Linked DNA regions of Homo sapiens: region 2 is linked to region 1. A link means that fine-mapping ties the variant in region 1 to the expression of a gene that starts in the linked region. Tissue or cell type: whole blood. Region 1 holds a variant in brackets; the other region holds the start of a gene. All regions are shown on one strand. Distances are from middle to middle.

What was found. PIP is the estimated chance that this variant, and not a neighbour inherited with it, causes the effect.
Region 2: it holds the start of ZCWPW1, and the variant in region 1 is fine-mapped to the expression of ZCWPW1 in whole blood (INTERVAL, PIP above 0.99).

Annotation. Positions count from the first base shown.
Region 1 is chr7:99,922,710-99,930,565 of GRCh38, reverse strand. GJC3 (gap junction protein gamma 3) reads left to right here and starts at 946. Exons shown (of 2, transcript NM_181538.3): 1 at 946-1,726; 2 at 6,963-7,300. The coding sequence starts at 946. The coding sequence ends at 7,021. It overlaps LOC101927610 (a long non-coding RNA gene), which reads right to left. Exons shown (of 2, transcript XR_001745296.3): 2 at 5,252-7,856. RefSeq lists enhancers at 563-1,147, 1,148-1,733. The variant G/TG (reference allele first, on the strand shown) is at 4,396.
Region 2 is chr7:100,426,086-100,431,826 of GRCh38, reverse strand. It overlaps ZCWPW1 (zinc finger CW-type and PWWP domain containing 1), which reads left to right and starts at 3,124. Exons shown (of 18, transcript NM_001386010.1): 1 at 3,124-3,259. MEPCE (methylphosphate capping enzyme) reads right to left here and starts at 1,996. Exons shown (of 4, transcript NM_019606.6): 1 at 138-1,996. The coding sequence starts at 1,808. RefSeq lists enhancers at 1,097-1,176, 2,047-2,186, 3,207-3,436 and silencers at 1,307-1,776, 3,597-3,646.

The sequences.
Region 1 (7,856 bases):
GAAGGCAGCTGATTAGGACAAATATAGAGATGGTGAACTTGGGCTTGTAGCATTGTGGTATTTTGGCTGGGGAACAGAGGGATTTCTGAAACTTATCCTTGATCATGGTCGCCTGTCACCATGAGGGAGATAATATGCCCAAGGAACAATGGCAAGTGGGGGTCAAAAATCTGAATTTCTATCTAGTCAGTTCTGGCTCTGGCCCCAAATCCTATAGTATGTAATTCTGGTAAATTCTGCTGGGTTACCTTCCAAATGTTCTCTTCTTCCTCAGCTTGTAAGGCCTAAGAGCATCAGACTAAAGCAAGCCTCGATGCTTGCTCTGTTCATTTCATCCATCACATCTAGCCCCATAACCTAACTACCTCTCAACTTTACCACTGTGATGGGAGAAGAGGACATCCAGACACACCTGTGATCATCCAAGGGCATGGAGGAAGAGAAAAGAAGACCGCAAGAGAATGCACATTCCCTCTCAGCATCAGCACTAATTTGCTTAAGATGATGCTGTAGGAGCACCAGGCCTGGCAGCCATCAGCTGGGGAAGCAATACCTTTCAAAGGAAAATTAACAAAACATCCCAGTCTACTCTCTTACGTTCAGCCTTTGGGAAAGAGAGACGGAGGGAAGGAGGGAAAGAGAGAGATGAAGATGTATCCTGGTCTCTCCAACCTGAGAGTTCCTCTCCACTCCAGCAGTACAGAAGGGGAGGGCAGAAGAGAGAGCCACACCACACACACTCACTGTTATTATTTTACATAGATGATTTCATTAAGTAGTAAAGAGGTGCAATCAGAGTCTTGGTATTTAATCAGTCAGATACTTGGAGAGGAATAAAAAAGCTTGCCTTCAGTGATCCTTGGATTAGGAGTGACAAGGTGGACTGGAGCTCCCTCTGAAGGACAGTGAACAACACTGATCTCTTGTCCTCTGCTCCAAAACAGGATGTGTGGCAGGTTCCTGCGGCGGCTGCTGGCGGAGGAGAGCCGGCGCTCCACCCCCGTGGGGCGCCTCTTGCTTCCCGTGCTCCTGGGATTCCGCCTTGTGCTGCTGGCTGCCAGTGGGCCTGGAGTCTATGGTGATGAGCAGAGTGAATTCGTGTGTCACACCCAGCAGCCGGGCTGCAAGGCTGCCTGCTTCGATGCCTTCCACCCCCTCTCCCCGCTGCGTTTCTGGGTCTTCCAGGTCATCTTGGTGGCTGTACCCAGCGCCCTCTATATGGGTTTCACTCTGTATCACGTGATCTGGCACTGGGAATTATCAGGAAAGGGGAAGGAGGAGGAGACCCTGATCCAGGGACGGGAGGGCAACACAGATGTCCCAGGGGCTGGAAGCCTCAGGCTGCTCTGGGCTTATGTGGCTCAGCTGGGGGCTCGGCTTGTCCTGGAGGGGGCAGCCCTGGGGTTGCAGTACCACCTGTATGGGTTCCAGATGCCCAGCTCCTTTGCATGTCGCCGAGAACCTTGCCTTGGTAGTATAACCTGCAATCTGTCCCGCCCCTCTGAGAAGACCATTTTCCTAAAGACCATGTTTGGAGTCAGCGGTTTCTGTCTCTTGTTTACTTTTTTGGAGCTTGTGCTTCTGGGTTTGGGGAGATGGTGGAGGACCTGGAAGCACAAATCTTCCTCTTCTAAATACTTCCTAACTTCAGAGAGCACCAGAAGACACAAGAAAGCAACCGATAGCCTCCCAGTGGTGGAAACCAAAGAGCAATTTCAAGAAGCAGGTGAGAAGGACACGCTCTCTTCCTGTCACTGATGTTTGTGTCCTGATGATCTCCTCCCGGGGCAGGTCCCTCACCTTTCTGGGAAGTACAACTTCTGCATGTTACAAAGTAGGTAACCAGGTTCTAGGCAGATGTGTTCTGACCGCCACTCCCAACCCTTTTCTTTGTTCTCTCTTGCTCTCAAAATCTATCCCAATGTCCATCCCCATCAACTTGATGGTTCCTTCCAGCGAACAAGGACAAGAGTGCTAGTCCGTTGTCCCTCCTGAACTTCCATTTAGGTCTCTCTCCACTTAGGAAAAATCTCAGCTTCTTCTTGATTCTCTACTTTGCAGAGTTATAAAGACACCTGACTTGCCTGAAGGAAACTCTGTGATTGAATCTTCTTTCCAACATCCAGTGAGTGGGGATTCATGTCTGTGACAAATTAGAGGCTGTTGAAGGATCTCTAAGGGCCCCTTGGGCCATGTAGTCTAAAGCATTTCCTGACTGTGCCTTTTCACTGGAATTTTCTGGTGTCAGCATCACAATTTTTATGGGCTTGGTTCAAGAGTCAGCCGGGAGAAGCCTCCCTAAACTGTGTCTCTCCCCTGTCCTGCTCAATAAATATTGATGACTGCTGTTGGCATTCCTGTTGCTGAAGATAATGCCCCTTCCTGTCTCACTGGCTTCATTTACCTCTTTTCTGTTTTTCCACATTCTCTGCTCCCCTTATCATCAAAGTTTTGTAAATGAATGCCCCTCAGACCTGCAGCACATGTCATAAGCCAGAAACTCTGGGCTTCAAGCATATATAAGTCAGTGTCCTCTAATATCTATAGATTTATCCAAATACCCGGCCATATCCTTAAGGAAAATTACTGTGAATTCAGGGGCTTAGGCCCCCTTGATCACTGATAGCTCTGATTTCTGCTCAATTCTCATTCTTCATTTCTGCAGTTCTCGTTGCAGCTTGTTACAATTGTCTCCAGAACTGCAGCAACTCATGCTGGACCAAGTTCCTACTCTTTAATTTCATAACCCTCAATACCACACAGAAAAAGCAGTAGAGTTCTACTGCTGATATGCTGATTTGGGAGTAACAGCAAGGGAGGCTGACATCACAGTGTGATTCGGCGGGTAACTGCAATCTGAATATCAGTCTTCTCGAGTCTCTTAGTCATTTCTGTTGGACAGTGTTGTTCTATCCCTTTTTTTTTTTAACAGAACGCTGCCCTCTTTTCTTAGTTTTCTCTTGCCCTGAAATTCTCAACAAAGGCAGTTATCTATTTTTTTTTCTCTTTCTGAATCCCAAATTATCCCCAAGTAAGTTAGGGGATCCCAAGGGATGCTTTGGCAATAGCTAGGAAATTTTTTTTTTCTTCCTGCTACACAAGTGCTTCATAAGAATCCCTCATCCACTGTAGCCAGAGCCCAGCCAAAGTGACCAAGGAAAAACGCAAATAGCATCATTTGGAATTCTTCCTTATACCACCCCCTTTTAAAACAGCTTTATTGAGATATAATTCATACACCATATAATTTATCCACTTAAAGTGAGGCAGGAGAATAGGTTCTGGAGGAAGGGAACCTAAGGCTGTTTCACGCCAACTTCCTAGGACTAAATTGAAAGGAAAACTCTAACTTTCCTTGCCTAAGTAACACAAGGACCAGAGGCTACTCCCTTTGCAACACCCCCACCTTTTCTGTGCAGCAGATGGGAAATTGCCTGTCCCCAACAAATCAGGCTGTTTGCAGATGAGTCTTCCTTTGCAACTTCGTAACTTCTTCCTAGCCTCTGATTGGTTGCTTTCTGCAAAGCATGAACTGGCCAAAGGGAAACTTCTAGTGGGTACTGGGACCCAAGAAGATTGTGTATCCGTGCCCTTGAACCGCTGCTCGGATTGCTCCCACACTGTGGCGTGTACTTTGGTTTTCAATAAATCCCTGCTTTCGTTCTTTTGTTGCTTCATCCTTTCTTTGCTTTGCTAGGAGTTTTGTCCAATTCCTTGTTCAAAACGCCAAGAACCTGGACAACTTGCAGTCACTATCCTCTACCAGTGACAAAAGTATACAATTAAATAGCCTTTAGTATATTCAGAGTTGTATATCCATCAACACTACCAATTTAATAACATTTTCATCAACTTAAAAAAACCCTACCCCCTCATGTTACTCTCAAACTCTTATTAGCACCCAAAACATGCAACCATCATATGGTTTTGTCTCTATTGGTTTTCCTACTCTTTCATACAAATGGAATCATGCAATATGTGGTCTTTCATGTCTGGCTTCTTTCACTGAGCATAACTTGAGGTTCATTCATGTTGTGGCATGTTTCAGTATTACATTCCTTTATATGGTTGAGTGTTATTCCACTGTTAGGATATACCACATTTTGTTTAAGGAGATACCACATTTTGTTTATACATTCTTCAGTTTCAGGACATTTGGGTTGTTTCCATTTTTTGGCTCTTATGACCACTGTTGCTATGAACATATGTGTACCACTTTTTTTTTTTTTTTTGGGATGGAGTCTCACTCTGTCACCCAGACTGGAGTGCAGTGGTGTGATCTTGGCTTATTGCAACCTCCACTTCCTGGGTTCAAGCGATTCTCCTGCTTCAGCGTCCTGAGTACCTGGGACTACAGGTGCGCACCACCACACCCAGCTAATTTTTGTATTTTTT[G/TG]TAGAGACAGGGTTTTGCCATGTTGGCCAGGCTGGTCTCAAACTCCTGACCTCAGGTTATCTGCCTGCCTCAGCTTCCCAAAGTGCTGGAACAACAGTCCTGAGCCACCACACCTGGCCCCAGTTTTAGTGTTGTGTAAACACATGTTGTCAGTTCTCTTGCATAAATAACCAGGAATAGAATGTCTGGGTCATAAGGAAACTCCACGTTTCAACTTTTGAGGAACTGCCAAACTCTTTTCCACAGCAGCTGCACTATTTTTACATTCCTACCAGCAATGTGGGAATACTTTTTATTTATCTATTAAATTCTAGCCATCCTAGTGGGTGTGAAGTGGTATCTCATTGTAGTTTTGATTTGCACTTGCCTAATGGCTAATTACATTGAACATTTTCCATGTGCTTAGTGGTTATTTGTATATCTTCTTTGGAGAAATGTCTATTCAAATCCTTTTCCCATTTATAAATAGAGTTTTTTGTATTTTTGTTGTTGCATTGTAAGAGCTCTTTATATATTGTGGGTATTAGATACTTATTGTATGTATGATTTCCAAATATCTTCTCCCATTCTATGATTGTCTTTCACTTTCTTGATAGTGATGCACAAAAGTTTTAAATTTTAATGAAGTCTAACATCCAATTTTTTCTTTTGTTGCTTATGATTTTTGTGTATTACCTAAGAAACTATTGCCTAATTCACAGCCATAAAGATTAATGCCTATGTTTCCATAAGAGTTGTATAGTTTCAGCTCTTACATTTAGGTCTCTGGTTGGTTTTGAGTTAATTTTTGTGTATGGTGTAAGATAAATGTCAAACTTTATCTTTTGCATGTGGATATTCAATTGTCTCAGCACTATTTCTTTTTTAAAAACTTTTTTTATTTAAATGGGTACATAGTAGGTTATATATTTATGGGGTATACAAGGTATTTTGATACAGGTATGCAATGTGTAATAGTCACATCAGGGTAAATGGGGTATTTATCACCTCAAGCCTTCAGCCTTTGTTATAAATAATCCAATTATACTAGTTATTTTATAATGTACAATTATTTTTGACTGTAATCACCCTGTTGTGCTATCAACTACTAATTCTTATTCATTCTATTTTTTGTACCCATTAACCATCTCCACTTTCCCCCTACTACCCTTCCCATCCTTGGTAATCATCAGAGAAGATATACAGATAATAAGAAAGCATATGAAAAGATGTTTAACATCATTTATCATTAGAGAAATGAGAATGATTGACTTTAGGGTTAGGGAAGAGAAATACAAGATAAGACTGGAGGATTTTGTAGCGGTAGAAAGTAAGAAAGTGCTACTCCCTCTTCCCCACAAAATGACAGGAGTTTGTCAAAGGGACACAGATGTCAACTGAAAAAGTTCCCAATGGCCAACACAGGAATAATCTGAGCAGTAAAATAAACAACATAGTATTGGATTATACCCAAAGTATAAAATAGGAATCCATGAATTCATAATATAAATAATTGAATAAATAGGAGATAACTGACAAATTTCTCATGCAGAAGAATGTAGATACTCCACCGCAAGGAGGGGAAATATAACTACTCACTTTTTTTTCTTTTGAGATGGAATTTTGCTCATCGCCCAGGCTGGAGTGCAATGGCAGGATCACTGCAATCTCTGCCTCCCAGGTTCAAGCAGTTCTCCTGCCTCAGCCTCCTGAATAGCTGGGATTACAGGCGTGCACCACCATGCCTGGCTAATTTTTGTATTTTTAGCAGAGACGGGGTTTCACCATGTCGGCCAAGCTGGTCTCGAACTCCTGACCTCAGGTGATCCACCCACTCAGCCTCCCAAAGTGCTGGGATTACAGGCGTGAGCCACCGTGCCCACCAACTACTCCCTTTTTAGGCATGGGCTGCACATAGTGACTTCCCACTAAACAGTAAAATAGGGGGAGGGGAAAGAATAACTTTACAGGGAGAAACCCATCAAATACTACCTCAGCCGGGTGATCAAGGTTAACATCAACAGTGATGAGCAATGTTGACAGCATGTGCCCCGGATATGATGTGATGACGGTTTTTGTATTTTCCCGTTCTAAAATTTCCATGGGGCTATTCTTTGTATTTTCTATTACTTCTCTGAGACTTTTAAACTTTCCATTTGAATAGCAGCTTTATAGTCTTGATAATTCCAACATGTGTGGCAACTTACATTCTGCATCTGTTACATTTTTTCCCAACGTGAGTTGAGATTTTCCTGGTTCTTCACCTGCCAATTAATATCGATTGTATCCTGGACATTTTGAATGTCATTAGGATGCTCTGGGTCTTGGTTAAATTTGGTGGAGGATGTTGATATTTATGTTTTAAAGGGTAATTAACCCATTTGGGTTCAAGTCATAAGTTTTGACCAGCCTTCTGAGGGTTGTGGTTCCAATGTCAGTTCAGTTTTCAAAGCCTTTGTAGTACTCTTCTGATAGGTCCCACATGGGTGGCACCTAAAGTGTAACCCAGGGTCCTTGGGTTTTGGGTACGCACTGTGAAAAAGTTACACACTTGTAACTGTTACATCTTGAATTTTTGTTTTAAAAAGTTCCAGGAAGAAGCTTAGCCCAGGAAAAACAAAGACCAGTTGGACCCAGAGATGCCTGAGTTGGAGATGAACTTTGGCCAACTTTCCTCATCACCATACTTAAAATCCTGTCCAAGGAGGAGCTTATTCACCATTTTCTATACATGTGACATATGTAGCAGCATAACCGACAACTGGGACTGCGCTGCCTTGACTCCACCTCTACATACAATGACTCAGCTAACCAGACTAATAAAAGCCATGTTTGCACCATTGCTCAGGGAGGCATTGCTTTGGGGAATTATTCCCAGTGTCCTCCTTACTTATCGCAAGTAATAAAATCCCCCTGGGAAATCCTCCTTGGTTGTGGTCATTGGACTGTCCCCTGCCAAGCAATTTAACCCATTCATTGTGTGGGTAACAAAAGGCCAGTCTGGGACATGAGATCTGGGTCTACAGTTTAGTTCTCAAAGTCTTTGGCATGCAATTTAGGACCAGATTCATCATACCAAAAAAGGGAGATAGTCTCAACAGAATTCTCAAATTACTTAAATATCAGAGGCAGTGTAGAGAAGGAGTACTTGGTGGTATGGTAGGTTTTCTGACAGGAAACAAAAGATGGAGGTAAAATGGAACCAGTACTTTCTTTCTGAGAATACTGACTGCACCAACCATAACATGAAGCGAAGGCTATATCTCCCTGAAGTAAGAAATGTAATAAAGGAAACTTTCAGAAATAATAGATCATCTGGAGATGTTGGGCAGTGTATTTGGTAAGTTATAACTACCAGGTATCAATACAATAAGCTTAGTTTGAATACAATAAGCTTAGTTTCTTTTTAAAGAATTTATCCTGCTCTGTGTTCTCTGAGCTCCTTGGATTGGTTTGGTGTCTTACAAATTTTGGAAATTCTC
Region 2 (5,741 bases), 500 kb before region 1:
GACGCCCAGCAGAGGCTCTCACTTGCCAACCCAGACCCCTCTTTTGAGGATCTGGGTCATAACCTTCCCTGCTACATTCCCATTTAATCTCATCTTCACACCTGGCCCCTATTCCAAGAGCCTCTGGACCCTCTTACCGTGACGAAGACAACATTGTTGGGGAAGACTGATGTGTCCGCTCCATCCAAGGGCACTTGGGGGGCAGCGATGGGACCCCGGCTGGCAGTCAGCGAGGCTGGGAAGCAGCTCCTCTTTCGAACGGTGGTGGTCCCTTCCTCACCCTCTGCCCCCGGGTCCCCTTCCAAAGTCTGGGGTGGGAGACGCAGCTCCTCGGAAAGGTAGTGTCGGATGTTTTGGCGGGCAGAATGGATGAGCCGGGAATCGATATCCAGGCCCACCATGCGGGACGGGCCCCACTTGCAGGCAATGCTCAGGGTCAGATGGCCCACATTGCAGCCCAGATCTAGGACGTCCCGGCCCCGAAACCACTCAGGCTTCAACACCCGAAGGCGCCCATCCTCACAGGAAGGATTGCGGTACCCATAGTATTTGCAATAATTCCCATACTGGAACTTGCGCTGTTGCTTTTTGAAGCCTGCTGCAGGCAGTGGGTGGTGGTGGTGGTGGCGGCCTCCCCAACTCCCTCGGCCCTTTTCCTTGGAACCCTGGCCTCCACCCCTAGCCCCTGCCTCCGACTTGCTGGAAGTCCTGCGACGTTTGCGATGTCGGGAGGAGGAAGATGGGGGTGCAGAGATAACTGAGGCAGCTGGAGGGGCTGATAGGGAGCCTGAGGGACCCTGCAGAGCAGATGGAAGGGGAGACACCACTTCATCCCTGCAGTTGATGGCTGTGTTGAGTTCATAGGGTTGGGGGGCATCCCGGTTCTGGCCCCTGTGCCGCGGCTGCTGTGAGGCGCCCTCCCCGTGGAGTAAGGGGGTGAGAGGGGCTGTGGGCGGCACGGGGTGACTCTCACTCCCTCCGGCTGCCTGCTGCTGCTGGTGGTGCTGTCCCCGGTGTCTATGCCGCTTCCGACCAGTCTTGAGTGGCGAAGCAAGAACTACATGGCCCTCATCAGTGCAAGTATTGAGACTGAGCGGGTCAGTAATATCTTTGGGGATGAGGATCTCCACCGGATCTCGCCCTTTGGCCGGAAGGGGGGATGACTTAGGGGTCTCCGCGTTGAGAGTGCGGCTCACTTCCTCATCCAGGAGGCTATTCAGGTTCAGGGGATCAAAGATATTGCCCCCCAGGAGGAAGTTGGAGGGTAACACAGAGTCACAGTCCGAATTCACCCGCCTGCGCCTCTTGAAGGCCGGATGTTTGAAGCCTCCCCCGCCTCCCCCTACATTACAGCTATTTCTCCTCTTGCCCCCGCCCCCCCCAGGTGGCCGGTGGGGCTGATAGCCATTGCGGGGTCGAGGAGGAGCAGGGGGACCCAGCTCTGTCCCGCCCCCTCCCCGGCGCTCCTCCCCCACGTCCGGGGGAGCGGCTCGCCCCGGGGGATCCGACAGGCGGGCCTCCCCATGCGACTGCGCCTGGGGGCCGCCCCCTCGGTGCTGCTGCGCCTGGGGACCACTGGAGGAGGTGGCCGCGGCCCCGGGGCTTTCCCGACCGACCGCAGCGGCTGGGGACCCCGCAGATGGCGCGCAACGACCCGGACCACGCTCCGTCCCGCCGCGGAGCTCCCCAGAGGCGGCCTCTTGGTGCGGTGGCACCGTGGGGCCGCCCCCTCCGCCCGACTCATCTTTGAGCGGCGGCGGCGGGGCCGGCACCAGAAACGGCTCCTTCTCCGCCGCCATCTCGATCATTTCCTCCCCTTATTCCGTGCCAGTCGGGGTAACGAGGGGGATCAGGGGGCCTAACCCCCCCTGCCTGGACCCTGCTCCCTTCCCCCCTTTCCCGAGTGCGCGCGCAGCTCTGCTCTTCACGCCTAGTCTCGCGCCCAAGCGCCTCCCCGCCAAGTGCGCCCTACTAGCCCGCGAGACCAAAACAAGAGGCCCGCGAGACCCGAACTACTCGAGGACTCAACCGCGCGTGCGCCGACCCCTTTCTCCTCCGCCACTACCACCCGGCCGCGAGCGCGCACGGTGAGCGCGCGTTCCCTTCGCCCGGGAACCACGCATGCGCACTCCGCCACCACCCTGGTTGCGCGCGCATCAGACTACGAACCAACTTAACGGCTCTGGGAGTTTAAATATAACCCCCCCACAGCCCCCGCAAAAGCCCACCACCCCAAACTGACACCCTACTTCCCTGCGCAGCTATGTCCGGCCCTACTGATCTCCTTTGTCTCTGCCGCGCGATCCCACCCACCGTAGGCGGGGGACGGGAGCTGGTGTGAAAAGGTCTCCTTGACACCCGACCCTTGTTCCTGAGGAATGAGTCTCAGCGGTCTCCGCCCGGCTCTAAATCCAACAACCTCCCCACCCCGCCTCCTTCCTCCCCCCTAGTGGGCAGCGCCTGCGCACACCCTTTTGGGCTTGCGCGGGTAGAGGCAGCACGTGCTGAAACTGGCGCCCCGCCCCCCGTCTTAGGGGTTGGGCCTGTGACGTCGCTTCCTTAAGTTTGGTAAACGCAGCGTGCGTCAGCGCGATCCGGAGGGGCGGGGCTTCCTGACGAAGGGCGGGGCTCATGAATTATTCATGAGCTGTTGGTAGCAAACCTCCCCCCCTCTGCCCACCTTCTTAGAAGCGCTTCCGAGGGAGCGGAGGGGAGACCCTACAAAGCCAAGGAAGGGCGGGAGTGGAACTGGGCTCAGTAAAACGCGATAGGTCATTATAACTCACCCCCCTTGAAAATATTCTCTGCTGAATTGGGGAAAAATAAAAAGCACTAAAACAGCCGATGTTGTCCAACTTCCTCTTCCCCCGAAACGGCTGAGTCGTTCTCTGGCTCCTCTACCTTCCCCCAATCGCAATCACCTGGAGACGCCACACCACGCCTTCCTCTCCGCCTCAACACCCACGACCCGAACCCCAACGCATCCGCCCACTCCCGACGCCCGCTCACTGGCCCGTCAGTTCGCGGGCCTCTCAACACCCACCGCGGCGCCACGCCGACTTATATACCAGCGAGTGTGGGCGGGGACGGGGGTTCGGTCCGCGCTGGGCCCCCCCAGCTTCTGCCAATGAGGAAGAAGCGAGTCTACGCCGTTTTCCCGGGGAGATGCGCCGCCCGGTCTCCCTGCCAGCGGAGTGCTGGGCCGAGGACAGGGCGGCAGGGGTGACAGTGGGGTCCAGGAGAGTCTCAAAATCCTAAGGTGAGGGCGTGAAGGAGACCAGCAGGAAGAGGAGGAATTAGAGAACGGAAAGAGGGAGGAAAAGGCAGTCTGAAACAGAAAAGTTAGTAGATGTGCTTCAGGAACAATCAGGCGCCGCGGCCGCCGCCTAAAAATATGTGACACCAAAGAGGATTCTGGGATTTGTAGTTTTCCCGGGACGTTCGGGTGGAAGATGGCGGATTTACCTCAGCTGCGGAAACGCAGACGCTGTTTCCAGTTGCGCATGCGCCTCGGCCCCGCGAGCGCACCGCCCTCGGGTGGAGCTAGTGCTCAGGGCGTCCTCGTGCCTTTTCTTGGTGGCGGGAAACCTGGGTTGAGGTGTGAGGGGCTTGCGGAGTCGCTGCGGCAGCTGGTTCCGCCCATCGCCTTTAGGTCCTCCTTGCTCCTGAAGGTAGCCAGCTAGTTTCTGGTTGTAGGTGAAGGTGCTAGGCGCTGCCAGTCCTGGCACCCGTTGCCTGAGGAGAAACTTTCTCAGGGCGACAACCAGCCCTTCGCCCTTTTTCCTCAGAATCTGTCGCCCCCAAGAAACAGACAAAAAAAAAATAGCCCAGTCTCCTGGCGGGCACCAACGATATGAGTGAGAATAAGGATCACGGGGCCTCGGCAGGAGTGGGGGTGGAGGGGAGATTCCCTCATGGTGGGAGGAAGGAAGGGAGGGGACGGGGAAGAGAGAGGGGGACGTGTGGCTCAGGGACACCGACTTGAACCGCTATCCCTGAGAGAGAATAAGGGGTGAGGGAAGAGAGGAAAAATGGGAGCGCCCCACAAATGGGAAGAACTTCTCTGCAAAACTTCTTCCCTTTGGATTGCAGGTGGATTTGGAATTGGGGCTTTTTTTTTTTTTTTTTTAAAGACTGTCTCGCTCTGTCGCCCAGGCTGGAGTGCAGTGGCGCAGTCTCGGCTCACTGCAACCCCCACCTCCTGGGTTCAAGCGATTCCCCTGCCTCAGCCTCCCGAGGAGCTGGGACTACAGGCGCCCGCCACTGTGCCCGGCTAATTTTGTATTTTTAGTAGAGACGGGGTTTCTCCATGTTGGCCAGGCTGGTCTCGAACTCCTGACCTTAGGTGATCCGCCCACCTTGGCCTCCCAAAATGCTGGGATTACAGGCACGCGCCACCGTGCTCGGCTGATTTTTTTGTATTTTTAGTAGAGACGGGGTTTCACCGTATTGGCCAGGCTGGTCCCGAACTCCTGACTTAAGGTGATCCACCCGCCTCTTCTTTCTTGTTAAAAGTTTTAAATCGGGCTTGCTGAGCTTGTGCACAAACACGAAGGAAGAAAGCAAGGGAGGGAAGGGGGAGGAAGGAAGGAGGGAGGGAAGGGGGAGGAAGGAAGGAGGGAGGGAAGGGGGAGGAAGGAAGGAGGGAGGGAAGGAGAAGAGAGAGAGGGAGGGAGGAAAGGGAGGAGGGAGGGAGGAGGGGGAGGAAAGGGGAGGGAGGGAAGGAGAAGAGAGAGAGGGAGGGAAGGAGAAGAGAGAGGGAGGGAAGGATAAGAGAGGGAGGGAGGAAAGGGGAGGGAGGGAGGAGGGGGAGGAAACGGGAGGGAGGGAAGGAGAAGAGAGGGAGGGAGGAAAGGGGGAAGGGAGGAGGGGGAGGAAAGGGGAGGGAGGAGGGGGAGGGAGAAGGGAGGGAGGGAGAGGAAGGAAGAAGGAGGGGAAGCAGGGAAGGGAGGAGGGGGAGGGGGGTAGGAAGGAGAGGGGGAGGAAAGGGAAGGAGGAGGGGGAGAAAGGAGAGGGGGAGGAGGGAGGGAAGAGGGAGAGAGAAAGGGAGGAGGGCAAGGAAGGAGGGGGAGGGAGAGAAGGAGGGGGAGGAAGGGATGGAGGGACAAAGGGAGACAGAAGGAGGGAAGAAGGAAGAGAGGGAGGGAAGAGGGAGGAAGGAGTAAAGGAGGGAGAGAGGGAGGGAGAAAAAGTGAGAGGGAGGGAGGAAACTGCTATTAGTTAATTGAGGCATGAAAATAAGCAGGAGTCCACATACTGTTATTAATGCAAAAAGGAAGATCAGACTCTGGCTTAAAAAAGATTTGAAATATACTTTTTTTTTTTTTTTTTTTTGAGACAGAGTCTCACTCATTTTGCCCAGGCTGGAGTGCAGTAGCACGGTCTTGGCTCACTGCAACCTCCACCTCCTGGGTTCAAGTGATTCTCCTGCTTCAGCCTCCCAAGTAGCTGAGATTACAGGCGCCTGCCACCACGCTGGCTAATTTTTGTATTTTAGTAGAGATGGGGCTTCACCATGTTGGTCAGGCTGGTCTTGAACTCCTGACCTTAGGTGATCCACCTGCCTTGGCCTCCCAAAGTGCTGGAATTACAGGCGTGAGCCACTGCGCCCGGCTGAAATATACTCTTTAAATACCGCTTTTTTGAGGCTCAGGGAGTCTGGGTTAGAGGACAATGCTAAAGGGTTTACTTCTCTTAGACCAAGGATTTGAGGAACAATATAAGGAAGGGAATGATTGGAT